Linked DNA regions of Homo sapiens. The protein of the gene in region 4 purifies or fractionates together with the protein of the main gene of each other region. This does not show direct contact. Each region holds a gene or a part of one and is shown on either strand. Other genes may lie near its edges. The genes, in order: MYO1B, HDLBP, MCM6, PINK1, HNRNPR, IGF2BP2 and GARS1.

What was found.
Region 1: the proteins of PINK1 (region 4) and MYO1B purify together in Homo sapiens (affinity purification with mass spectrometry, with the first as the bait; one large-scale study listed by BioGRID). This does not show direct contact.
Region 2: the proteins of PINK1 (region 4) and HDLBP purify together in Homo sapiens (affinity purification with mass spectrometry; 2 studies listed by BioGRID and IntAct, with this or other methods). This does not show direct contact.
Region 3: the proteins of PINK1 (region 4) and MCM6 purify together in Homo sapiens (affinity purification with mass spectrometry, with the first as the bait; one large-scale study listed by BioGRID). This does not show direct contact.
Region 5: the proteins of PINK1 (region 4) and HNRNPR purify together in Homo sapiens (affinity purification with mass spectrometry, with the first as the bait; one large-scale study listed by BioGRID). This does not show direct contact.
Region 6: the proteins of PINK1 (region 4) and IGF2BP2 purify together in Homo sapiens (affinity purification with mass spectrometry, with the first as the bait; one large-scale study listed by BioGRID). This does not show direct contact.
Region 7: the proteins of PINK1 (region 4) and GARS1 purify together in Homo sapiens (affinity purification with mass spectrometry, with the first as the bait; one large-scale study listed by BioGRID). This does not show direct contact.

The regions. Positions count from the first base shown.
Region 1 is NC_000002.12:191,409,404-191,412,903, reverse strand, and holds part of MYO1B (unconventional myosin-Ib), read right to left. Parts: intron 1,839-3,500; coding exon 1,732-1,838; intron 1-1,731. UniProt on the Homo sapiens protein: Motor protein that may participate in process critical to neuronal development and function such as cell migration, neurite outgrowth and vesicular transport.
Region 2 is NC_000002.12:241,235,673-241,239,172, reverse strand, and holds part of HDLBP (vigilin), read left to right. Parts: intron 1-385; coding exon 386-524; intron 525-2,403; coding exon 2,404-2,558; intron 2,559-3,500. UniProt on the Homo sapiens protein: Appears to play a role in cell sterol metabolism. It may function to protect cells from over-accumulation of cholesterol.
Region 3 is NC_000002.12:135,866,444-135,869,943, reverse strand, and holds part of MCM6 (DNA replication licensing factor MCM6), read left to right. Parts: intron 1-1,083; coding exon 1,084-1,333; intron 1,334-3,215; coding exon 3,216-3,381; intron 3,382-3,500. UniProt on the Homo sapiens protein: Acts as a component of the MCM2-7 complex (MCM complex) which is the replicative helicase essential for 'once per cell cycle' DNA replication initiation and elongation in eukaryotic cells.
Region 4 is NC_000001.11:20,639,958-20,643,457, forward strand, and holds part of PINK1 (serine/threonine-protein kinase PINK1, mitochondrial precursor), read left to right. Parts: coding exon 1-35; intron 36-2,699; exon of another isoform or gene 2,700-3,161; intron 3,162-3,500. UniProt on the Homo sapiens protein: Serine/threonine-protein kinase which acts as a sensor of mitochondrial damage and protects against mitochondrial dysfunction during cellular stress.
Region 5 is NC_000001.11:23,313,285-23,316,784, reverse strand, and holds part of HNRNPR (heterogeneous nuclear ribonucleoprotein R), read left to right. Parts: intron 1-3,082; coding exon 3,083-3,232; intron 3,233-3,500. UniProt on the Homo sapiens protein: Component of ribonucleosomes, which are complexes of at least 20 other different heterogeneous nuclear ribonucleoproteins (hnRNP). hnRNP play an important role in processing of precursor mRNA in the nucleus.
Region 6 is NC_000003.12:185,689,043-185,692,542, reverse strand, and holds part of IGF2BP2 (insulin-like growth factor 2 mRNA-binding protein 2), read left to right. Parts: intron 1-2,915; coding exon 2,916-3,188; intron 3,189-3,322; exon of another isoform or gene 3,323-3,435; intron 3,436-3,500.
Region 7 is NC_000007.14:30,597,878-30,601,377, reverse strand, and holds part of GARS1 (glycine--tRNA ligase isoform 1 precursor), read right to left. Parts: intron 2,583-3,500; coding exon 2,481-2,582; intron 1,432-2,480; coding exon 1,329-1,431; intron 320-1,328; coding exon 178-319; intron 1-177. UniProt on the Homo sapiens protein: Catalyzes the ATP-dependent ligation of glycine to the 3'-end of its cognate tRNA, via the formation of an aminoacyl-adenylate intermediate (Gly-AMP).

The DNA.
Region 1 (3,500 bases), on a different chromosome or scaffold from region 4:
CTCTAAATGGACAGAAGTAACCAAAGCAAACATTCAGAATCAGGGCAATTTTTTTTTTCCCAAACAAACTAATTTTTGTAAAAGGTTAACTGTACACTTATCACTAAGATATCAATTTCCCTAAAGACTTGTCGGGGGACTCTTTCAGGACAGGTTCATCAAAGGCACCAAGGAAAAACTGCTGCTTCAAGGAATCTATAAGCTTCATTTTGAGCTACAAAGTTCTGGCAATTTGCAAATACAAATTTAAATGCTTATGTTGTGGGTGGAGGATAAGGGAAGAAAAATCCACGTAGGTGGTCAGCGTTTCACAGCTCTCAGGATATAAAAGGCCAACTCCCATAAGAGCTGCCACTTTGCAGGGTGGTGGGAGGCTAAATTATTCCACCTCTCTCACTGCTGTGGGGTGAGTGTGCCACTATCCCTGAAAACTGATAAGACTACCCAAAAAGGACTTGGCTTGAAGTTAACTTTTTTTGGTTCCTATTCAACTGTGTTTTAAATTATAAAAATGCTAACAGGCTTTTAAATTGTTTCCTCAAAGATGTATTTTCCAGCCTGTAGTTTCTGAAGAGTCATCCACAGGAAATGTTCATTAAGAAGGTTATTCCCTAATTTAAAAATGTATAAAAAAAAAGCTGAATAAAATTAGTTGCTGAAGCAAGCATACAGACAAATTCTCCTGTTTGAATATGCTTTATATAACAGGCACTTTGGACAACTTTGGATTTAGACACTGTGTTTGACTTAAGGGAGTATGTATCACCTCAAGTAGCCACATCAGCTAACCAATGAAGTTGTACAATTTAAAATATTTAAACCCAGTGAGTCTGGCAATGTATATTCCTTTAATCCTTTAAAAGGAAGATATTTTAAATGTGTATAAAGTCACAGAGAATATAAACATAATTTACGTAATAAATGTGAATATACTCAGCATATAATACATTCTTTCTTTGGCCATTCATTGGAAGAAGCTTAAAGTTGTTACAGATTTGGCTTGAAATTGTACAATCTACTTTTTTATAAACACCAGATGAAAATGGGATTAGATTGCTGGGAGGAAGTGATGAATGCAGGAGATGTAAGACTATTGGGATAAACAGTCTTTACCAAGGACTTCACTTGCTGAACTTGGGATTGGTGTTCCTTCTTTTTCTGAGTCCACGGTGTCTAAAATAAAGGAACTGAACGTGCTGTACAGGCCACAGAAGTCATATCCGTTGAGTTAGCAGACCAAAGGGCACCACAGACCAGTGCTCAAGCAACACTCAAAAAGTACTGTCCTGGCTCGCTCTTTCATTTACCTTACAAATAAGTTTCTGACCTTGCTTGCTATGGCAGGAAGACTGGAATGGTGATTAAAGTATATTGCCAACAGAAATTTGGCTAGTCTTTGAAAACTACGGAAAAGGAACAGGAATTTACAATGCAAACGTATCTTAACAGCCTATATAATTTTTATGTTAAATGACTTCTAATTATTTAGTAAAGTGTTTGAGCTAATGCTAATGGAGTGAAACCAACAATCGTAACCTCATTTCATTAAACTGCACTATAGAAGCCATAGCTCAAATAAATGTGTTTACATCAAGCTGATTATAAAATGATTCACAGAACTAAAAATCACTCATCTAAGACTGAAATCAAACACCAGGCAAAACGGCGTACAAATATACTTGAGAAACTTTTATAATCCTGAATTTTATGGGTAAAGCAAAGCCATAATACCTAGATGGGTATAAAGCCTTCTTGTCTTTGAAGAGTTCACTGGCTTCTAGTTTCTCTTCATAAATAAGTTTCTGCTGGTCTGTGAATTGGTCCCTGTATTTTTTACACTGTGAGATATGAGAAGAAAGAAACAAAACATCATTTATATAAATAAATTATTACTCATTCTTAAATATGCTAAGACAATTTATCAGCAACAAGAATAAGGGAGAAAGTACAAAACATTCACTAAAAAAGGCCAAAAACATTTTTCCCTTGTGGGTTTTAAAAAGTTTGTCTTGGAAAACGTCAGAGTATTATTTGTATTGCAGAACCTGGAATGCTTCTTCAAAACACACCAGGGCCTAGTGGGCACGGGCCTTGCAAGTACTATTTCCTCCCACTATGTCAATCCTTGGAAATCCTCTAGTCCTGAGGCTGTCACTCTTCTAGAGAGACTCACAGTAAAAATATTGTGCATCACAATCCACTAAGCACATTTCCACACACATACAGAGAAAACTGACACAAAAGCGTCACAAAACAATACTCAATCCTTTCTATATATTGTACACTCTGCTATTTTCTATTCTATTGCATTTTATTGAAAAACGCTGGTAGTAATCCACTAAATTGATTTCATGACCACAAATATGCTATGACAGTTTGAAAACCACTGCTCCAAATCCCCCCACTACCATTTTACAATAGGGATGAGGGACCTGAGATATCCCCTTTCACTCCATCCCTGAAGCTGCAATGAGAGGAGACAGTGGCCAGAGGAGCAGGGCCAGGTTTTTTAGATGAGCATTCCTAGAAATTCAGTTACAGGTGTGGTCAAGTGCTACTGAAATAATTGCATGAAGAAGTGTGAGCATTGCTGCTGACCCTTTCCATGGAAAGGCTCCCTTCAGGAATAAACAGCCCTCATCTCCCACCTCCAATCCAATGGAGGGATGGGTGAGATTGCAAAGCCAGGGGAGGGCAGAGGTGGTGCAGATCCCCAGCAATGGGAGCTCCCTGTCATTATTTCTGAAAACAGTTTCTGGGTTAGACTCAAGAAAGGAGACAAGCCATTAAGAGGTTCATGAACCTCGCCAAATTTGCTGTTAGAGAACAGAACTCAGAATCTAGTTCCTTATGTTGTATGGTACCACTTATCAAGCTAATCAGCAATAATGTCACTCTATACATAGATGATTCTAACAAAAAAACAAGCCCACCGTGCTGGGCAGGAAAGTTTCCTGGAGGATGTGTGTACTGAGCATTCATTTACTAAATACATGCCCTTCCATCTCATGATTTTATTACATCTGATAACTGCATATATTTAACATTCCACATATCAACTGACTAGGTTATCGAAGTAAGGTCAACATCTATACAAGTGCCCCACGTGTTCCATGCTGGGCAACATCTAAATTACATGCCATGTCCTCTTATACAAAATAAGAGAGCTAAAATAAAAGGCAGTATAAAACAGATTTCCAGCTTCCCTGTAATTTAGATAGAGAATGTGTTACTATCTTTAGGGACAGGAAAAAGCCTTTTTTCCCACCCATCAAAGTGTGTGTGTTCACATGTATTATCTGATTATCTGTTCTGTACATCTGATAAAGTAAACTCTTCAATTTGCAGGATTTAACTATGTTGCCTGAAGGTGTCCAAATTTTATGATTTCTCTGTCCTACAGTATTCCTTTAGACAAAGAGAGAAACAAATGAACAAAAAACTGAACTACTTGAGAGCAGCTGGAACCTGGAATGGAAAGAAAATGCAGCCCTGTGCTC
Region 2 (3,500 bases), on a different chromosome or scaffold from region 4:
TTAGAAGCAGTCTTTAGAGAGTGTCCCCTCCAGGCCACTCCCCTGCCAGGGCCTTGGATTCCCTTTCCCTAATAATCAAGTCTGATGCCTCCTCATGGAGTCAGAGGCTACCCCAGGAGGTCCCACTCCTTTGGCTGAATTGGCCACCCTCCAGGGATGGCACCTGGCCTTCTGGGACACATTTCAGAGGAGGCCCACCCCCTTAGACCTGTCCTGCTACCTCCCTCCTCCCTGCGCCTGGAGCCCTGGACTCGGGAGAAGGGGAGCATCTGTGCCAAGTGGCTGTAGAGGACAGGGAGGAAGGTGGTGTGAAGAGTGCTGTAAAACTTGCCCTAAGGAATTTAATCTTTGCTCTTTTCTTTTTTCTTTGTGTACCTCCCTCCAGGAAGCTCAGGTGACATTAGAATGTGCTATACCCCAGAAATTCCATCGATCTGTCATGGGCCCCAAAGGTTCCAGAATCCAGCAGATTACTCGGGATTTCAGTGTTCAAATTAAATTCCCAGACAGAGAGGAGAACGCAGGTGGGTCCCCCATTAGCCCTGCTCTGCTTGTTAATAGTGGCGCCTCCCATGTGAGAGGCGGGGCTGTCGCACATACTGGTGAGGCTCTTTCCTGTCTCTGCTGGAAAACCATCTATGTATTCTGGGGGCTTCCAGAGGTTCAGGGTCACTCCCTGGCCTTTAAAAGATGGACCACGTCAGTTACTGACAGAGTGACCAGGTGACCTTCATAGGTCCTAGAGACACACAAGGTAGCCAGTCCCAAGGCGATGAGGAGCGTGCAGCCTCATCCTCGGGTGTCCCGAGTTCAGTCCCAGTGATTCTCATGACATCGTTTGGATCGCATGAGCCCCGTCGTAGAGCTTCCTCCTCCACATCTCCCATCACTGTGGGGTGTCCCCTGTGAGGCAGGCAGCTGCAGCCTCTGGCTGGCCAGAGGGCACCATCCAAGTGGCCGGCAGTTCTAGGAGAGCATTCAGTTCCCCGTACCATGCTTGCCCCCAGCTCTGCTCATGCACCTGGTGGTGGGGAGGCGACCTGTGGGATGCGGGTCGGTTGCCTCTCTCTCACTTGCTCTGCATTTGTGAAACAAAAGGTATGCCCTCCACTCTGTGTTATCAGATGCCCGCCCTCCACTCTGTGTTATCAGTCTTGGTTGAGCTGTTTGGGCGGCAGGTGGCCCTGCAGCCTGCTGAGTGCACATAGTGTCATCTCTCTGGGCATCCAGGAAGCATGTCACACACAGCCATTCAAGCCCCTTTGTTTTCCTGAGAATACAGGGTGTTTTGAGTAGGAAACTAATAAACTCATACTGCACTCTGTCTATGTTTTACACTTCAGTGGTTATTTAAAACTTTGATTTTGATAGAATTTCACAGAATAGTATAAAGACACATCCTGTGGCACCAGTTTCTTTTCTCAACTTCTCCCCTTTTACACACGTTTTTTTTCTGAATGTCATTTTTAGACATGTCCCTTTATTCATGGTGGGTATTTTCTTAGAACAAGGACATTCTCTTACATAATTCTAGCACATTTATCGGAATCGGATTTAACATTATATAACAGTAGTATCTAATATGTTGTCGGTATTCAAATTTGCCAGTTTTTCTCCTTCAGAAACACCTACTTCCCCATCCTAGGATCACCCTTGATTTCAGGCAGGCGTCTGTCTGGTCTCCTGCTCATTTATTTACATCACACACCTCCTGGGTTCTGTCTTAGTGATAATTATTGTTGTGTCTGTTTTGTGACACTTATTGTTGTGGTGTCTATTTTGGTACACACGCGGTGTCCCAGTGTGGCCTGTAGGAGCCCCTCCAGCTGTCTTCTGTGTCCTGTTCACACGCCTCTTCACTTCTGGGGCTCTCGCTTTCTGGCATAAGGAGCTGGCACAGGTTTACCTTGGCCTTGCCCTTTCTGTCTCCCCTAGACCTCTCACCCCCCTTCCCACTGCCTCTCCTGGGTGGGGCTGCGTGCTGGCCGCCTTCCCTGATGAGCCCTGCCTCACAGTCAAGCCTCACTTGTGCAGTGGGTCTGCCCTGTGTTCCTCCCATGAACTAACTCATCTGATCTCACTGAAGCCTCTGCTGTAGTTAGTTGCTGTTAGCTTCATCTTCAAGGTGAAGAAGGGAGACACAGAGCTCACGGCCTCCCGGCAAAGCCTTCATTGCCGCCCCCCCCCCCCCCCCCAAGGTCTGGGAGCCCTCTTTGAGGCTGCTGTGGGGACGTCCTATCTGCTCTCCCTGACCAGACCAAGACCTCCTGAAGGACAGGAGTGGTTTTCCCTCCCTTTTACCACCCAGCACCCAGCAGGTGCCTCACAGACATATGCATTCTGAACAAGGTGTGGGGTCTCTTCCAGCAGCTGTCAGCTGTCCCTTTTCCCCTTTCTCTCTAGTTCACAGTACAGAGCCAGTTGTCCAGGAGAATGGGGACGAAGCTGGGGAGGGGAGAGAGGCTAAAGATTGTGACCCCGGCTCTCCAAGGAGGTGTGACATCATCATCATCTCTGGCCGGAAAGAAAAGTGTGAGGCTGCCAAGGAAGCTCTGGAGGTATGTGTCCATGTGCCCCCCTCCACCCCCCGCCAAGGCCCAGTCAGCAGGCACCTGGGGAGACGCGTGGCCTGGATGGGATGGACGGTTGCCCAAGCGGCAGTGGCAGTGGAGGTAGCCCTCTTGCTCCTACCGTGTGCGCACGGGCTGTGCTTCTCGGCTGGACACAGAGTTTGGGGAGGCCACTTCCCTTCACCAAGGCTCGGGGTTCTATAGCCCCTTTCTGGGACAGCTGCATGGGATCCGGCCTCTCAGGCCCACGGTGGGTGCGGGGGCTGTGGAAGGGTCTCAGCTGCAGGGGGATGAATGTGACCTCCAGTTGCAACGTCTCCCCCCGCGTGAGTGGGGTTATCAGGCCTAGCTCACCTTGTGTGCAGTCAGTGTCGAGTGCCACCTGCGTACTGGATGCTGCTCTCAGTGCTGCGGTGCCACAGCACACAAAAATAGTTCTCACGTTGCCGTGGAGAGACAAGCAGTCAACGCAGATATATCCTGTGGCAAGTGATGGTAAATGCTGTGGCAAGAAAGCAGGTTCTGGAGGTGAAGGGCGGTGGGGGAGACAGGGCAGGGAAGGTGAGCAGCGGTCTGAGAGTCCCTTGTGGCACCTCGTGGGCATTAGCCAAAGCCGTCCTGATCCCAAGGGACAGGGCAGGGAAGGTGAGTAGTGGTCCGAGAGTCCCTTGTGGCACCTCATGGGCATCGGTCAAAGCCGTCATGACCCCGAGGATGTGCCAGGAGTCAGGGCCTCTCCTCCTACGTGGGCCTGAAGGGGCTGCTGTAATTCAGGAGGGTAGGCTTGGGATGAAGGGTCTGGAATTTCTGTCTGCCAGCATTAGCCTAATGCAAATCTTTTCCTATTCTTTTCTATTGAGTTAAAGGTCCTGGTGGCATTGTCGGGTGGGGCACATTGCTGTTGTCATAGGGCTGTTTGCCTTGTGTTTC
Region 3 (3,500 bases), on a different chromosome or scaffold from region 4:
ATAGTGGTTTGCATTCAGATTTTGTAGAAGGTTGACTTTTGTAGGAGTTATACCCACTTATCCAGAAAGTTTAGTGTTGGAGAAATGTATTTTCCTATGGAGATGGGATTAGATGTAAAGGGAGTGAAGCAAATTTTTAGGATTATCACATTTTAGGGCGCCTTTTAGGGAAATTTGGGAGAAAATTGATCAAGGGAGAAAATATGAAATTCTAGAAATTCCTGAATCTCTGGAAATTTTTGTTGGTTTAAATGCATAATTTTCAAACACCCCTTTGGCAGTTATTTTAAGAATAAATTTACTGGATAAAATTGAAGTGATATTTTGAAAAGTTAAACTACTGAAATTATAAAATTACCAAATTACTTCACATAAAATGGGTTTGTAAAGGAAGTGTTTCTGAACTTTGAGTACAAAATTTTTTCTCATGATAGGATTATTATGTAACACATGCTTTTTTTTTTAGAAATTGCGGGTAAGCAAAAAAGTATTTGCATATAAAACAAAAACAGGATCATTCTGTTTTTGTTTTTTTTTTTTTCTGAGACAGAGTCTTGCTCTGTCACCCAGGCCAGAGTGCAGTGGCACGATCTTGGCTCACTGCACCCTCCACCTCCCGGGTTCAAACAATTCTCCTGCCTCGGCTCCCCGAGTAGCTGGGATTACAGGCGCCCGCCACCACGACTGGCTAGTTTTTGTATTTTTAGTAGAGGTGGGGTTTCGCCATGTTGGCCAGGATGGTCTTGATCTCTTGACCTCATGATCCGCCCACCTTGGTCTCCCAAAGTGCTGGGATTACAGGTGTGAGTCACTGCGCCCAGCCCGTTCTGTTTTATAATTTTAATTTTCATTTTTTTGGCATCCTTTAGTTCATTTATATATTTTGTTCTGGATACATATACGTCATATAATTTAGGATTGGGCACGTTGACTAAATTATTCTTATAGGAGAGTCCAAAGAATACCTTGTCTCTTGAATTTTTTTTTTAAACATAAATTATCTTTGAATACCCTCTCACTAAAATGGAAAGATTCTTAGTTAAGAGATGAATGTTTACTAATGGGACATTTGTCTTTAAACAGGATTCGAGAGCTCACCTCATCCAGAATTGGTTTGCTCACTCGCATCAGTGGGCAGGTGGTGCGGACTCACCCAGTTCACCCAGAGCTTGTGAGCGGAACTTTTCTGTGCTTGGACTGTCAGACAGTGATCAGGGATGTAGAACAGCAGTTCAAATACACACAGCCAAACATCTGCCGAAATCCAGTTTGTGCCAACAGGAGGAGATTCTTACTGGATACAAATAAATCAAGATTTGTTGATTTTCAAAAGGTATTTATTTAACATCTGTTTAGATCAGAGTCCATCTATGATAATAATTCACTTCTAGGCCCTTGCAATAGCTTATTTAGATAATGTTCAACTCAATTTTTATGTAAGTTAAGCATCATCAAAATGACTACAAAGTTAAGCCCAAAACTGTTCATGTAAATTATAATTGTTAGTATATACATTTGTTTTAACTTTCAGTAACTTGGAAGTTCCTTAAGACTGACAAGATGTATTTGTCAAAGAATAAATGGTAACTAGGTGGTGGTGGTTGTCATTATGAACTGGAGTTAAGAAAACTTAAAGAAATAGCAACTTGTTAGTGTAAGATTTCCATTTGCTGCATAGAAAGGAAAGCATGAATAGGACAGGCTAGCTTGGAAGCAATGAGGATTATCATGATTGAAGTAAAGGAGCCAAATTGGAGATCATCTGAGAGATGATTTGATGTGAGACCTGGAGGTACTTGGATCCCTAAATCTTAGGCTGAGGAGTTTGAGCCTATCTTAATAAGCAGTGGGAATATAGTGGGAAGGTAGTTTGTGTGTGTGGGTGTGTGTTTGTTTTGTTTTGTTTTTTGTTTTTTTTTGAGACAGTCTCTCTCTGTCACCCAGGCTGGAGTGCAGTGGCGCGATCTCGGCTCACTGCAAGCTCCGCCTCCTGGGTTCACGCCATTCTCCTGCCTCAGCCTCCCGAGTAGCTGGGACTACAGGTGCCCACCACCACACCCGGCTAATTTTTTGTATTTTTAGTAGAGACAGGGTTTCATCGTGTTAAACCAGGATGGTCTCGATCTCCTGACTTCGTGATCCGCCTGCCTCTGCCTCCCAAAGTGCTGGGATACAGGCGTGAGCCACTGCACCCAGCCTGTGTGTTTTTTTTTAAAAGCAAACTGAATAAGTCCGTGATGGGTTTAACAGAGGGTAATAGGCAATTTCAGTTACCTGGGCAAGAGGTGATGGATGGCAGTAGTAAGAATGAAGGGGACCCTCAGATTTCAGCAGGACTTAATTTTATGGGACATACAAAATGGAAAGAAAAGCTGAAGCAGCTCAAGTATGGAATAATTATTATCAGATGAATTTAATATTATTTATATTGCTCTGATAATCATTCTCCTTATTTGGCTTTCTTACATTAACCTGGTAGCTTATAAGATGCACATATTTTACCAACAGCTTTGGGTAGGAGATGTCTTATCTTATAAAGTATGAATCTAGATTGGGTCTTAGTTTGGGGGGGGGAACACAACTGTATAAAGGACACTCTTGACAAGACATTTGAAGATGGACTAGATAATAGAAGATATGTAATTTTATGAAATTAAATATTGTTTAATTATCTTGGTTGTGATAATGATATTGTAACAGGATTGTCTTTATTCTTAGAGATGAATGCTAAAATATTTAGGTATGAAGTTTCTTGATGTTCACAACTGTGTTCAAATACATAGTAAAAAAACATGTATCTGTAAATAATGTTAGCAGTTGTGTTGAAGTGGAGGGTATAAAAGGTGTATTTGAAATTTTCTGTAAAATTATCTTAAAGCTTAGGAGAAGATGGAGCATGGAACAGATATTTGGAGTCATTTTGAACAAAGAAAAAAATTATTTTTTAATGAGTAAAAGTGAAGTTTTTTTTTTCTCTGCTGCTTGAATCATCATGGAGTTTTTAAATAGATGTAATCTCTTGCCAAATTGAACTATTTGACTAAAAGGAGTTTTAGAGTAGATAATTTTTAGGATAAATGTTGGTACATGTGAAAAGTCTGCTAATGGGTCAGATAGTTTAGAATACGTCCGTATTTGTGGTATTTAATTTAGATTATATGGCATCTGAAAGGTATTGCTTCTCATTCTTGGTTGGTTGTTTGTCTGTATTACAGGTTCGTATTCAAGAGACCCAAGCTGAGCTTCCTCGAGGGAGTATCCCCCGCAGTTTAGAAGTAATTTTAAGGGCTGAAGCTGTGGAATCAGCTCAAGCTGGTGACAAGTGTGACTTTACAGGGACACTGATTGTTGTGCCTGACGTCTCCAAGCTTAGCACACCAGGTCAGTAATCTGTGGCTCAAATTTAACAAATTCTCAGTTACCTAAACTGCACAGTATCTAGCTTCCCACATCTTCATTGTCTTCTTTTTGGCTACCAATCAGAAGCTGAGGAACGAAGT
Region 4 (3,500 bases):
GCCTTGGCTGGGGAGTATGGAGCAGTCACTTACAGGTAAGTGCCCTCTGCCTGCCAGACTGACTGGGACTTCTTTGAGAGCAACTTCATCCATCACTTATGTCCTCAGCACCTGGTACAGTGTCTGATATGACAGTAGATAATAAAGGCTTAATGTTGGTGATGGATTTTCAGTTAGTGGATAATTTCACTTGGGAAAGATTGCAGGTAATCTGACCCCAAATGATGATGCACTTGCGTAATTCACATTGGAGCAGGGGAGAGGAGGCCCCCCAAAAATGCCCAGTTCACAGTGTTGCATGATTGACTGGGGTTCTCAGATTCCTCCTAAGAAATGCACGGGTAGAGCGCCACCTATCGGAATAAACTGAACTCTGTCCCCACCAGAGGGAACACTCATTTCACTAATAGTTATGTGCACTGATGGTGCCAAGAGATTTTAAAAAAAACAAAAAGTGGTCTGTTGGCCCAGAGGTCTCAGTGTGGCAGCAGAGAGCCCAGGGTGTAAGTGCTAGAATCGAGTATGCTTGGGCTGAGGGAGCCCAGGGGAGGCGTGTGCTGCAGAGGAGGGGCTGCTCAGAAAGCCTTCTCAAAGGGACAGTTTGTGCCACCTTGTGAAGGATGAATTGGCATTACTTGGGCAGAGGAGTAGGGAAGTGGCATTCCCAGCAGAGGGAAGAGCAAGTGAACAGCAGCTACGCTTTCAGCTCAGAAAAGCCCATGTCCACCACCAGCCTCACCACAGGTGGTGAGGACTGACGCGCAGGCTATGACAGAGGAGATACTTGTGCCCACCTCAATATTTACAGCCTGGCTCATGCCTGTAATCCCAGCACTTTGGGAGGCTGAGGTAGGCAGATCACTTGAGCCCAGGAGTTCAAGAGCAGCCTGGGCAACATGGTGAAACCCCGCCTTTACAAAAAATAAATTTTAGCCGGGCATGGGGGCAAATGCCTGTGATCCCAGCTACTCAGGAGGCTGAGGCGGGAGGATCATTTGAGTCCAGGGAGGTTGAGGCTGCAGTGAGCCAAGATCATGCCACTGCACTCCAGCCTGGGCGACCCTGGAGTGAGACCCTGTCTCTCATTTGTAGACCCACCAAGAAGAGGTGGGTCTGCTGCATTTTTGGTGATTTACTGGAGGGCTGGTTTATAGATCTTCATTCTGTCAGAAGCAGGGAGGCAAAAGTATGAAATTAAGGGAGTGGTTGTGGAAAACCCCTTCCATGGTTTGGAGGTTTCCAATGTGACTGGGAGTCCCTGCAGGCCGGTGGAGGTAGCTGCTCAAGTGGCTGCTGCTTCTCCTGAGGCCTTTTTGGAGAAAGTGGACACCTGAATGTCAGCTGCTTTGGGGCTAACATGATCCTTGATGCCTCCTTTTGTGGCATGAGTGGCAGCCGGCCGACGTGGTGCTGTCCTGCTGCCGGAGCACCATGATGTCTGCTGCTGAGACCTCCCATCTGACATAGTCCCTGTCCCTCTTCAGGGACTTTGTTCCTTTAGCAGTTCTCACTGTCTGGCCTCAAATAACACGTCTTTTTCTGTTGGTTCCTTTTTGCTCCAGCTGTACTGTAAACACTCTTTGTTTACTGCATACCCTCAGTAAATACCTGTTGAATGACCGGATAGATGTGGCAGCAGGTACATTACCTCAACTTCTGGTACACCTTGGGAGAAGCTTTCCCAAGAACACCCTGGGTTCATTTCCTCCTAGCCTCTGCTCTCCTGGGGCCCAGAGATTGAAGGCGCTTAACCTGCTCATCTCACCACGTCTCCCGCCTTATCTCTCACCCTTCTCATCAGCACCCTACACTCCACCACGCTGGCTTCATAGCTCCTTCCCCGAATGTGCCAGGCTTCTCTGTGACCATCTCTTGAGCGTACAGCTGGCTATACCTGGGCTGCCCTCCTCCCACATTTCAGGTCTCAGTTCAGACACCCGCAACCCCACCATGTATCTCCCCAGTACAGCCATACTCCTCTGCCCCTGAGCTCCCATGACACCTGCTGGGGCCCTGACAGCCTGGGGCTGTGATCATGACTTGCCCAGGGGCCCGAGGGTGGAAACGATGCTCTGGCTCCTTTGATTGCATAGAACAGGGGCCACTCAGGTTGACTCAAGAGCAGGAGCAGCGCGTGGGCACACGTGGACTGCAGCCACACAGCCTGGGGACCATGCAGTGCTGGGAGAGGCCGGTGCCCTGCTCTCTCCCCAGCACCGTCTAGGCTCTGCCCCATTCGCTTCCCTCCACCATTGTTATGCAGCAAAGGGGGCTCTAGCCTGATGTGCTAGAAGCAGTCACACTGGATTTTTGAGAAAAGCCAAGCTTTCTATTGTGAGTCGACTCATATGGAGACAGGAGTTGAATTCAACCCTGTCTCCCTGTGCTAGCTTTAAGGCGGTAATTTTATTAGAGGAGGTTTAAGGGGTGGATTCTAAGATTAGCAGGTGATTGATGGAAGGAAAGGAGAAGTCTGGACAGTCCTTGGACATGCACAGTTATCTGTTCATGCCAACTCATGGGTCCCCTGTGCAGATTTGGGAGGAGTGAGTATGAAACGTGCAGTGGCAATTCAGGCTTTGACATCAGCAAACTTGTTCTGTGCAAGCTGCAATTGGCCTTATTGGTTCCAACCAATTTCAGCCAGTTCTTTTATCTCATAAGCAGAGGGAGTTTCAGCCTTTCAGAAAGTGGTTTCTGCAAACTCAAATTTTCTTTTATTTTTCTGAGACAGGGTCTTACTCTGTTGCCCAGGCTGGAGAGCAGTGGCGTGATCTTGGCTCACTGCAGCCTCAACCTCCCTGGGCTCAAGTGATCCTCCCACCTCAGCCTCCCAAGTAGCTGGGTCTGCAGGCACATGCCACCATGCCCAGCTAATTTTTGTAGTTTTTGTAGAGACAGAGTTTCTCCATGTTGCCCGGGCTGGCCTCGAACTCCTGGGCTCAAGCAATTGCCTGCCTCAGCCTCCCAAATTGCTGGGATTACAGGAGTGAGCCACGGGAATTTCCATCAGTTACTGATTCTTGAACTTGTAGGAACGTGGTTCCACTGTCCACATGCTGTTCTTTCCTCGCATCTCCTGTTCCTGCTTCCCTTTGGCCTGCTCACCTCTGGCTCCTCATGGCCCCAGTGAAGTATCGTGGCTTCCTCTCCACTGCAGACTGGCAGATTTCTTCACTCACACTCCCAAAAAGAGAATCTACTTCCCTCCCTTCCCTTCGTCCAACCATCTGGGTCTCGAGTGTCACTGTAGGTTCACTGCCGTTGGGGCAGGTGACTCCTTGGGCCAGTCAGCTTTGGCTGAAGGGCAGGGCTGGCACACAGCTGGCAGAGCCACCCCATCCAAAATCCAGCCACTGTGCCTCAGCAGGGCTGTGGTTTGGGGGTCGGGGGGCGCTCCCCACAGGATAAGGAGCAGCCAGGGCAGGCAGATGACACTACCACTACTAGCTGCATCTGGATCTATTCACTTATTCAACAAAGGTTTATTACACCCATAT
Region 5 (3,500 bases), 2.7 Mb from region 4:
TGATTTTAATTCCTATTGTTTCTTCTCCTAATACAACTATGACTTTGGGTAAACTACTGAACATGAATGTCATCTATTTTATTGAGCCTGGATCAATCTCTAAGATCCACCACAACTTTGAATCTACCTGTAGTAACTAAGTATAGCCTGTATTACTTTTTCTGTAAAAATATTTTAAAATAGTATTATAGATGTATTATAATAGAGGAATAAAATATTATAAAAGAGGAATAAAATCCCATGAAAACCAAAAGTATAGCTTGTAATTTGCTTACCAGCCACTTCTCACATAACCTTTAGTAACTGCTCAGATGGAAGTTCATCCTAATCTTTTTTTAGGGTTAGAAAACTTCAAGATTTCATTCTGGTAACTCCTTTTTCCTAGATCTAAAACAGGTTTCAGAATGAAAAGGAGGTCTCTATAAACTTAGGATTAAATATTATGGAGCCCTTTATTGTTTCTTTTTTTTAAAAGATGGGGTCTCATGTTGCCCAGGCTGGAGTGCAGTAGCTGCCCACATGTGCAGTCATAGCACACTGCAGCCTTGAACTCCTGGGCTTAAGCGTCCCTCCTGCTTCAGCCTCCCGGGTGCTTGCAACCCCATCCAGCTCCTTTATTGTTTCCTAATTGAAAAGAAAAGTTTATCCATTTGAGTAAAGCTTCTGTTATTCACACTATCAATTTACAATTCACTGAAGATTTTTTTTGCCAAGTTGGGTCAGTTTTACAATGTACCATAACCTAAAAGCCTAAATATATGTCTCTTAAAGGGACCCTTTTTCCTGTTGAACATTTTAAACACAATTTCAGTAAGTAATTTTCACATAGTATGTTATCGTTTCATCATAGAAAAGTCCATGTTGAATTTTTTTTAAAAAGCAACTAAACCAGTGGGAGTCTGTGTAACATAGAGGCTGGACCTTAGTATGACAAATTGAGAATAATAAAGGGGATGGAGCGTTTGTGGAAAATGTTAGTTTTTTTCCTCCTTAAATTAGTATCTTCTTATTAGATAGCCCTTTATCTGAAGCAACAATTTGTTCAATATGTTAGTTTTTTATTTGGATAGGTACTATGTTTTCTTAGTTCAAAAGTTATATAGAAAAGTATAGACAAAGAAATTTCCTTTCTACCCCTATCCCTGTGTCTACCAAATCCCCTTTGTCTCCTATAAGGCATCCAGTTTTAATAGTTGCTGGTTTCCTTTTAGTATTTCCTTCGGCAAATATGGATATACTTCCTTAATTCTTAGATGAGTGGTAGTAATGTTGGTAGCCTACCATATCCACTGATCTACCTTTTGTTTATTCACCATCCTGTTTCATCAGCTCTGAGGAAATACATCATTACTATATGTACTACTAAATAGTTAAAAAACACTGCCAACTAAACTATGGCACAGTACTTGCTTATCACATTGACTGTAAGTTGTCCTATCCTACAACTCATAGAGCTCCTCTTCATTTTTTGGGTTTTTGTTTTTTTTTTTTTTTTTTTTTTTTTTGAGACGGAGCCTTGCTCTGTCACCCAGGCTGGAGTGCAGTGGTGTAATCTTGGCTCACTGCAGCCTCTGCCTCCCGGGTTCAAGTGATTCTCCTGCCTCAGCTTCCCGAGTAGCTGGGGTTATAGGTGCCTCCTACCACGCCCGGCTAATTTTTGTATTTTTAGTAGAGACAGGGTTTCACCATGCTGGCCAGGCTGGTCTTGAACTCCCAACCTCAGGTGATCTGCCCACCTCGGCCTCCCAAAGTGCTGGGATTACAGGCGTGAGCCACCGCGCCCAGCCCTCTTCTTCATTTTTTATGACTACATAGTAGTCTATTCTGTGGAGGTACTATAGTGTATTTAACCAGCTGGATATTGTTTCTAATCTTTTGCTCTTACAGTGCTGGAAGGAATAAGCTTATGTTAGTTGATACAAGTGGAGATATATCTGTAGGATAGATTCTTAGGGGTAGAATTGTGGGCCAAAGGGTAGATATATCTGTAATTGTTAAGATACTGCCATATTCCTTTCTGTAGGAGATACACTATTTTACATTCCTACCAGCAAAATACAAGAGAATTATTTTCCTCATTCTTGACAAAATAGTGTATAATCAAACTTTTGAATTTTGCCAGCCTGATAACAAATGTCTCAGTGCCATTAATGATTAATGATTTGCTTCTCTTACTATGAATGGTTTGAACTTTAAATATATTTTAAGAGCCATATGTGTTTCTGTGTATGAACCATGTATTCAGGAATTTTGCCTATTTTTCTATTCAGTTGTTGAGCTTTTTGTTATTTTCTGGTGCTCTGATATAAAAGAGAGATTAGCTGTTTGTGATACATGTTGCAAATTTTTCATCCATATTTATTGTCTTTGCTTATAGTATTTTTTTGCCATATAGAAGTCATTTATTTTTAGTAGTTGAGTATAACATTCTTATGGCTCCTAGATTTTAAGTCATAAGGTCATCCCCACTCCAGTGTTATATAAAGGAATCATTCTTGTTCTAAAATTTCACAGTCCTCCCTCCACCCTTTTATTATTTAAATTTTCAATCTATTTGGAGTTTATCCTTGTGTATAGTGTAAGGCATGGACCAGCTTTTCTCCTTTTTTTCTAATTTAACACTACCTGATTTAATGATTTAAGCATTATAGTTTGTTTATATTTGGTAGGGCCAGCCTCTAAATTTCACTCTTTTTTTTCCTGGTTATTCTTGCTTATTTATTTTTTCATATGAACTTTTGAAAGTTACTCAGTTTTAGAGGAAAGAAACAGAAAAACTTGTTTTGAAAGGGACTTTTTGTTGATTAACTTGGTAATAATAATTATGTGTTGGTTCCTTGAAGGTTCTACTCAGTGTTAGGTGCTTTAATGACAACATAGGAGAAGGCAGGAACCAATAATTTTTGTAAATTGGTGACTGATATCAGTGTCATTTTCCTAGCAATTTCTCTTACTACCTGTAACAACACTTTTAGCACTTAATGTTTTAGAGGAGAAAAGCTATGCTATGAAGACAGGAAGAAACACTTTTCAGGTAAAATTAAGTAGCCAATGACGGTTTTGTTTATTTGTTGCTTACTAGGTAAAAGTTTTGTTTGTGAGAAACTTGGCTACTACGGTGACAGAAGAAATATTGGAAAAGTCATTTTCTGAATTTGGAAAACTCGAAAGAGTAAAGAAGTTGAAAGATTATGCATTTGTTCATTTTGAAGACAGAGGAGCAGCTGTTAAGGTAGGAATTTTGAAATTTTGGTTCTTGATATTTGAATTTTGTTTTTGAAACTTGCCAAACACAAAGTAACTTTAAAAACTGAAACAATATTGGTTGTCAGCTTTTGCTGAACTCTTTCTATTTAATCTCTGTAAAGTGGTAATAGTATGTAACAGATAAGACTCCATATTTCAAAGCCAGGTTATTACTGAGTTTGTGATCTTAGGCAAGTTATTTTTAATCTCTGTATTGTTTTGTAAGATTCGATAGCATGATGCCTTGGAAGTAT
Region 6 (3,500 bases), on a different chromosome or scaffold from region 4:
GCCACCTTTGACATATTGGTAGAGCTCCAGGGTGTTCCTGCCATCTTTGACATGTCAGTGGAGCTCCAGGACATTCACACCGGGATATTTGTGGATTGTGTAGAGACTTGAAAAATGTTGAGCCTTGGCATCAAAACCAAGATGGGAGCTGTGTCTTGACATGATCGGGAATAGAGGGCACCATACCTGTGACACTGTGTCTCCTAGACTCTGCTTTGCCAAACACTTGGGACCACTTTTACCTAGAGCTTCCTCCATGCACTGTGAAGAGGCAGCACAAGCCTATACCAAAACATCAATTTTGTGTGTGTAACATTAGGAGGGAATCCACCTCAGTGAGAGCAGCAGCCGAGAGAATTGTCTGAGAGTGGTTACTCAATAGCACCTGGTTTGGGTTCTTTTCTCCAATCCCCATCCTCTTTCCAGTGCCCATTCATTACTTCAGGGATGGTTAATTTTGAGCTTAGCTGTTAATGGACATGAGATCAAGTCTCTTAAAAAACAATGAGGCCAGGCATGGTGGCTCATGCCTGTAATCCCAGCATTTTGGGCAAGGCCGGAGGATTGCTTGAGCCCAGGAGTTTGAGACCAACCTGGACAACATAGGGAGACCCAGTCTCTACAAAAAAACAATTTAAAAATTAGCTGGGAATGGTGGCTTGCACCTGTAGTTCCAGCTACTTGGGAGGCTGAGGCAGGAGGATCACTTGAGCCCAGGATGGTAAGGCTGCAGTAAGCTGTGATTGCACCACTACCATCCAGCCTGGGCAACAGAGCAAGACCCTGCCTCTCAAAACAACAACAGCCGGATGTGGTGGCACATGCTTATAATCCCAGCTACTTGGGAGGGTGAGGATTACTTGAAGCCAGGAGTTTGAGACCAGCCTGGGCAAAATAATGAGACCCCCATCTTTAAAAGAACAACAAAAACAAGTTCCTTTTTTGTAGGAGGTCCTTAAAGTGCCTGTCAGGTCATTATAACTAGAATTATGGTCACATTTGGTCTTGCTTTATGGGTGTGGCATAACCTTGGCTATATATCCCAGGATTATAGTGTTCTTTTTCAACATACAAAGATATTTAACCCATTTTCATACTGCTAGTTTTCAAAATGTTAATTTTGCATTGAAAAAGATAATGGTTCAGGCCAGGCGTGGTGGCTCATGCCTGTAATCCCAGCCCTTTGGGAGGCCGAGGTGGGCAGATCACCTGAGGCTGGGAGATCGAGACCAGCCTGACCAACATGGAGAAACCCCATCTCTACTAAAAATACAAAATTAGCCAGGCGTGGTGGCGCATGCCTGTAATCCCAGCTACTCGGGAGGCTGAGGCAAGAGAATCACTTGAACTTGGGAGGCAGAGGTTGCAGTGAGCTGAGATCGCGCCATTGCACTCCAGCCTGGTCAATAAGGGCGAAACTCTGTCTCGAAAAAAATAAAAAAAAAGAAAAAGGTAATAGTTCATTTAGTGTTAACTTTACCTTGTACACATTTGTAAGTGGAGATACACCAACAACTCAACTCCACAGCCCTTATCTAGCTGCTGCTTGGGTGGACCTCTCTACATGATATTACTCTATTGCTTTTATTAAATTCAAAAGGTGCTGCTTTGTAATAAATTTACAAGTCCTAGACATTAACCTAGTAAAATTGGGTTAATGCTACTAAAAATATGTGAAAAGGATAGTGTATTTCGTGTGTCATTTTAAGAATATAATAGTGGTATATCATTTATCCCCTATCAAATTGATAAATATCTTTAAATAACAGCGCTCTGTGCATTTGAAGATTCAAGGACACAAATGCTCTCTCCTAAACTGCTATGGGATCATAAATGTTGAAACCATTCCAGGGGCCCACTGGGCAATAGTTAACAATTCTACTAGGAATTTGTCCTGTGTGCAAAGTTGTAGTTGCAAAGATGCCAATGGTGACAGTGTGTGTAACTGTAAAAGGTTGGATACAACAGATATCTAACTATAAAGGATCAGTTGCAAAAACTATGGTAAATCAATAGAATGTTAAACAGTCATTAAAAATTATACTGATACTGCAGTTGAGTCATGTGTAAATTATACTGAAAGGTACTTAGTGACATTGAAAAATGTTTTAGAATATTAACTGTTTTTTTAAAGGTTAGAACATAGTATGTACAATATTAACCCATTTTTATAAGCAATAATATGTTTATATTTAAGAAAGACAGTAAAGATAGTGGATTAGGATTTTATTTGCACTTACATATTTCTGAATTTTCAATAATATGTATGATGATTAAAATGAGAAAAAAATGAGTCATAATTTTATACTGATATTTATAAGAGTTTTTGATAAGGGGGAAATGGCCTTGAGTGGTGGAGAAACCAGGCTGTAATGTTGGATATGAAGCCTGACCAGGCTGATGCGTTGTGATTACTTGTTTAACTGTTAACCGTAAGCCCTGAGGGAGCAGAGATGGTGTCTGTCTTGCTCACCACTGTATGTTCAGTGCCTGGCATGGCACCATATAGGCACCTATTAAATGGGAGTGAATGAACCAGTCTTGCGGGAGGGTCTTTCTTTTTTTTTTTTTTTTTGAGACGGAGTCTCGCTCTGTCGCCCAGGCTGGAGTGCAGTGGCAGGATCTCGGCTCACTGCAAGCTCCGCCTCCCGGGTTCACGCCATTCTCCTGCCTCAGCCTCCCAAGTAGCTGGGACTACAGGCGCCCGCCACTACGCCCGGCTAATTTTTTGTATTTTTAGTAGAGACGGGGTTTCACCGTTTTAGCCGGGATGGTCTCGATCTCCTGACCTCGTGATCCACCCGCCTCGGCCTCCCAAAGTGCTGGGATTACAGGCGTGAGCCACCGCGCCCGGCCGGGAGGGTCTTTCTTGATGTTGGTTTCTGACGAAGCTCCCCTGTCCTGCTGCATTTCAGAGCCATGGAGAAGCTAAGCGGGCATCAGTTTGAGAACTACTCCTTCAAGATTTCCTACATCCCGGATGAAGAGGTGAGCTCCCCTTCGCCCCCTCAGCGAGCCCAGCGTGGGGACCACTCTTCCCGGGAGCAAGGCCACGCCCCTGGGGGCACTTCTCAGGCCAGACAGATTGATTTCCCGCTGCGGATCCTGGTCCCCACCCAGTTTGTTGGTGCCATCATCGGAAAGGAGGGCTTGACCATAAAGAACATCACTAAGCAGACCCAGTCCCGGTACGTGCCTGTGGGGCTTCCTTTGCTTCCTTCTGAGGGGTCCCCTGCGTGCTGGTGGGTCTCAGCCACTCTTAGGTCACAATTGCTTACATCAGCAGTGGGGGGCTGTGCTGTAAGAGACAGTGGCTTCTTTCAACAGGACTACTAACAGACTAACATCAAGCTGGGGGCTGTGACAAGCTTTCATGCTGAGAGGCTAAAAGTTCATAAAGAGGGTACTGATAACCTCACAGCCAGGACTGTTCCTGTAAGCGAACTAATGCTTATGGATGCATTGATTTCTACAAAAGCAGAGGTTTGGAGCTCTGCGGG
Region 7 (3,500 bases), on a different chromosome or scaffold from region 4:
ACATAGCTATCTGTGAGCAGAAGGTATACATTTCTTTGCTTTTCCATATTTTTCAGATTTTCTACATGAAATGAGTAGTTCTTTATAATCAGGAAGTTATTTAGATAAGTATATTAAATAATTTAATAAGTTATTTTATTTAAAGTAGGATACCCCCACTCCAAAGTAAGATCTCACTTTAAAACTGGCTCAGGGGTGAGCATGGTGCAATCGATCTCCAGGATCTGTTCCTCTTGGATAAAGTGCTGCCTCCAGGTCTGAATAATATTGTTCTTCAAAGCACAGCCAACTGGCCCAAAGTCATACAGACCACTAACACCTATAGAATATGAGAGGAAAACACATACTTTACCTTGTTACTCTGAACAAATGAAGGCAAGGAGACATGAGAAACTGATACCTATACTCCCTAAAAGTGTATTCAAGTCAACAATGCAAATCCCTCAATACTGAAGAACCTTACTTTCAGCTAGCTGATGGAAGTAAAATAAAAAAGCTCTTACGCCATTTACTAATTCTATATTTGTAATTTCAAGTAGGACTAGCCCAAAATCTACAACAAAAGTTCCCCCTTAGAGAACAGAATGAAAAAGCAGATTACAGTTTTCTGCCGTAAAAATTACAAAATAATTTCTCACCACATCTGATAACAATGATCTATAATTTTAGCATCCAATTCTCTAATTTTTTCCTGGGTATTTGAGGCACTATTTAACCTCAAAAGGGTAAACATTTACAGATCCACTTAGCCAAACTCAAGTCAACTTTCAGTGGCAAAGTACTATATGTCTAATGTTGTTGTAATAATCCGTTGACTATGAAAAATATAGTTTTACATTTCATCAGTGAATTGTATTTGCCTATATACCTTCATATGGCATTCACAGTGATTTATCTACATCCCTGGGAAGAATGTTTTCTCCTGGCAGATGACCATAAAGAATAATCTAAGGACTGTTTTATCACTGCCCCTGTGTGAAGGGGCATAGTATAGTTAGCCAGTACTACAATGGCCCTCTGTTACTCTTCAGTCTCCATTGCATTTTAAAAAGAGTACATGAGTACACAGACACATCAAATACATACATGGGCCTCCAACAATTCCCTACATCCTAATCAAAAAAAGTGCTGTCCAGGAATAAATGCAGTGGAGAAAAATAACAGGTATCACACCAAATGGTGACTCCAAGCAAACAAAAGCAAAACATCCATCCTCTGCTTTGTGGCCTGATACAAGTGGATACCAACAGGCAAGCCATGTTCTTGATTTAAGTATAATATTAGAGCCACTAACAACACAATAGTTCTTTTTGTCATTAATCCCTTACCTCCATAAATAGCAAAAGCTTGATCATAGAAAAACCTCCTCTTCAGGGTATCTTCCATTTTTGCTCGGTCTACAATATCATCTTTGGGCTGTAACGCCAGCTCCTGTTAGAGATTAAATAAAAAGTGAGTGAGTGGAGGGGTGGGTGGGAATCTGAACTTATATATCTGAATTTAGTTTATTCCTCACCAGAATTAAATATAAAATTTATCAAACAGACAAGATTTTGATAGGTTAAAAACAATAGAAGCCATAGGTCTTTTTTTCCCTTTGAGTAATATAAAAGATATCTTTACTTAATCATTTAGGAAAATATATGATCATTTCCAAGATTACAAGACTAAGCTTGACCAGGTGCGGTGGCTCACACCTGTAATCCCAGTACTTTGGGAGGCCGAAGTGGGTGGATCACCTGAGGTCAGGAGTTCAAGCCCAGCCTGGCCAACATGGCAAAACACTGTCTCTACTAAAAATACAAAAATTAGCTGGGCTTGGTGGTGGGCACCTGTAATCCCAGCTACTTGGGAGGCTGAGGCAGGAGAATCACTTGAACCCGGGAGGCAGAGGTTGCAGTGAGCTGAGATCGCACCATTGCACTCCAGCCTGGGCAACAGGGCGAGACTCCATCTCAAAAAAAAAACAAGACTAAGTTTACTTTGATGTAGATACTGATAAGCAATATAAAGCAATATTTGAATTGTCAGTGGATTGCTATAGCAAAATGGTTACTTTAAAACCCCAAAACAACTTAAGTTTGGTGATGGGAGATCTATTGTTTGAAAGGTCTGGGAGCAGGTATCAAATAAACAGACCTTTTCCTTAAAACAAACAAACAAACAAAAATCATTATTTTCAGGCATAAGAGAAGTCGTAAAGAAGAGCACAATCCTTTCCATGGAAATTCATATAGCGTATTGAGTCCAGCATTTGCAGGGTCAGGAAGGCTTTATTAAAAAGTTGACATTTTGAGTTGCATTTTGAAAGGATGAGGAGTCTACCAGGTAGAGGGAAAGGAGAAGGCGGCATTATGGATAAACAGATAAACCAAATGATACTTGTTCAGAAACTTTTCTAGGTCTCTCCCATCCAAAGAAATTAAAGATGAACAATCCTATACCTACTTATGTTCCTATTTTAGCATCCCAGGACTCACCTTTGCTTCCAGAACCCTCTTGCGGGCTTTGAGCTCAGCCACTGCTTTGTCTACGTCTACTTGGGGTGCTTTATCTTCTTTGAGTTTTCGCACAAGATCTCCCTAGCCAAGAAAGAGAATTTATATTCAGGATTGGTTTCAGAAGTTAAGAAATGTTAGGAATGTGTTTTTAAGCGTGCCTTTTAAAAAGTCTATGTAAGAATGATGCAATTCAGGCCAAGCGTGGTGGCTCACGCCTGTAATACCAGCACTTTGAAAGGCCCTCCTCACCATCTGAGATCAGGAGTTTCAGACCATCCTGGCCAACATGGTGATACACCATCGCTACTGAAAATACAAAAATTAGCCGGCCGTGGTGGTGGGCACCTGTAATCCCAGCCACTTGGGAGGCTGAGGCAGGAGAATCACTTGAACCCGGAAGGCGGAGGTTGCACTGAGCTAAGATCATGCTACTACACTCCAGCCTGGGTGACAAAGTGAGACTCCGTCTCAAAATGAAAAAAAAAAAAAAAAAAAAAAAGAATGATGCAATTCAAATGTTTATTATGTGAGTGATCATTATGAATCAAGGTCTCTGCCCTCTTCATTTAATAATCTAGAAGAACACACGGGCAAGTTAACAAATAACTGCTCACATGGTGAATTTTTTCCTTTGGGTATAGAGGGGTGAAAAAGGAGGAGACAAAAGCATTGATTAAAAAGTAGGAAAGAGCAAGATTTGTACTGAGAACACAGAAGAACCAATAAATTGACCACCTTCTTAAATCTCTCTCCTCTCGCTTACAAAAAAAAATAAAAACATTATTCAGTTTTCCTCCCACTTCTCTGACCATTCTTCTCAGTCACTGCTGGCTCATCTTCCTTTGCCTTTCTCTTTACAGTTGGAATTTTTTCCTTGCTAATATTTCTGAATTATTTTATTAACTTCCAACAACTTATACTAATTCCATATTTATAGTAATATGGTGGAATAGGTCATCTGAGTAAACAAACAAAATATTACCTATATAGGATGAAAAA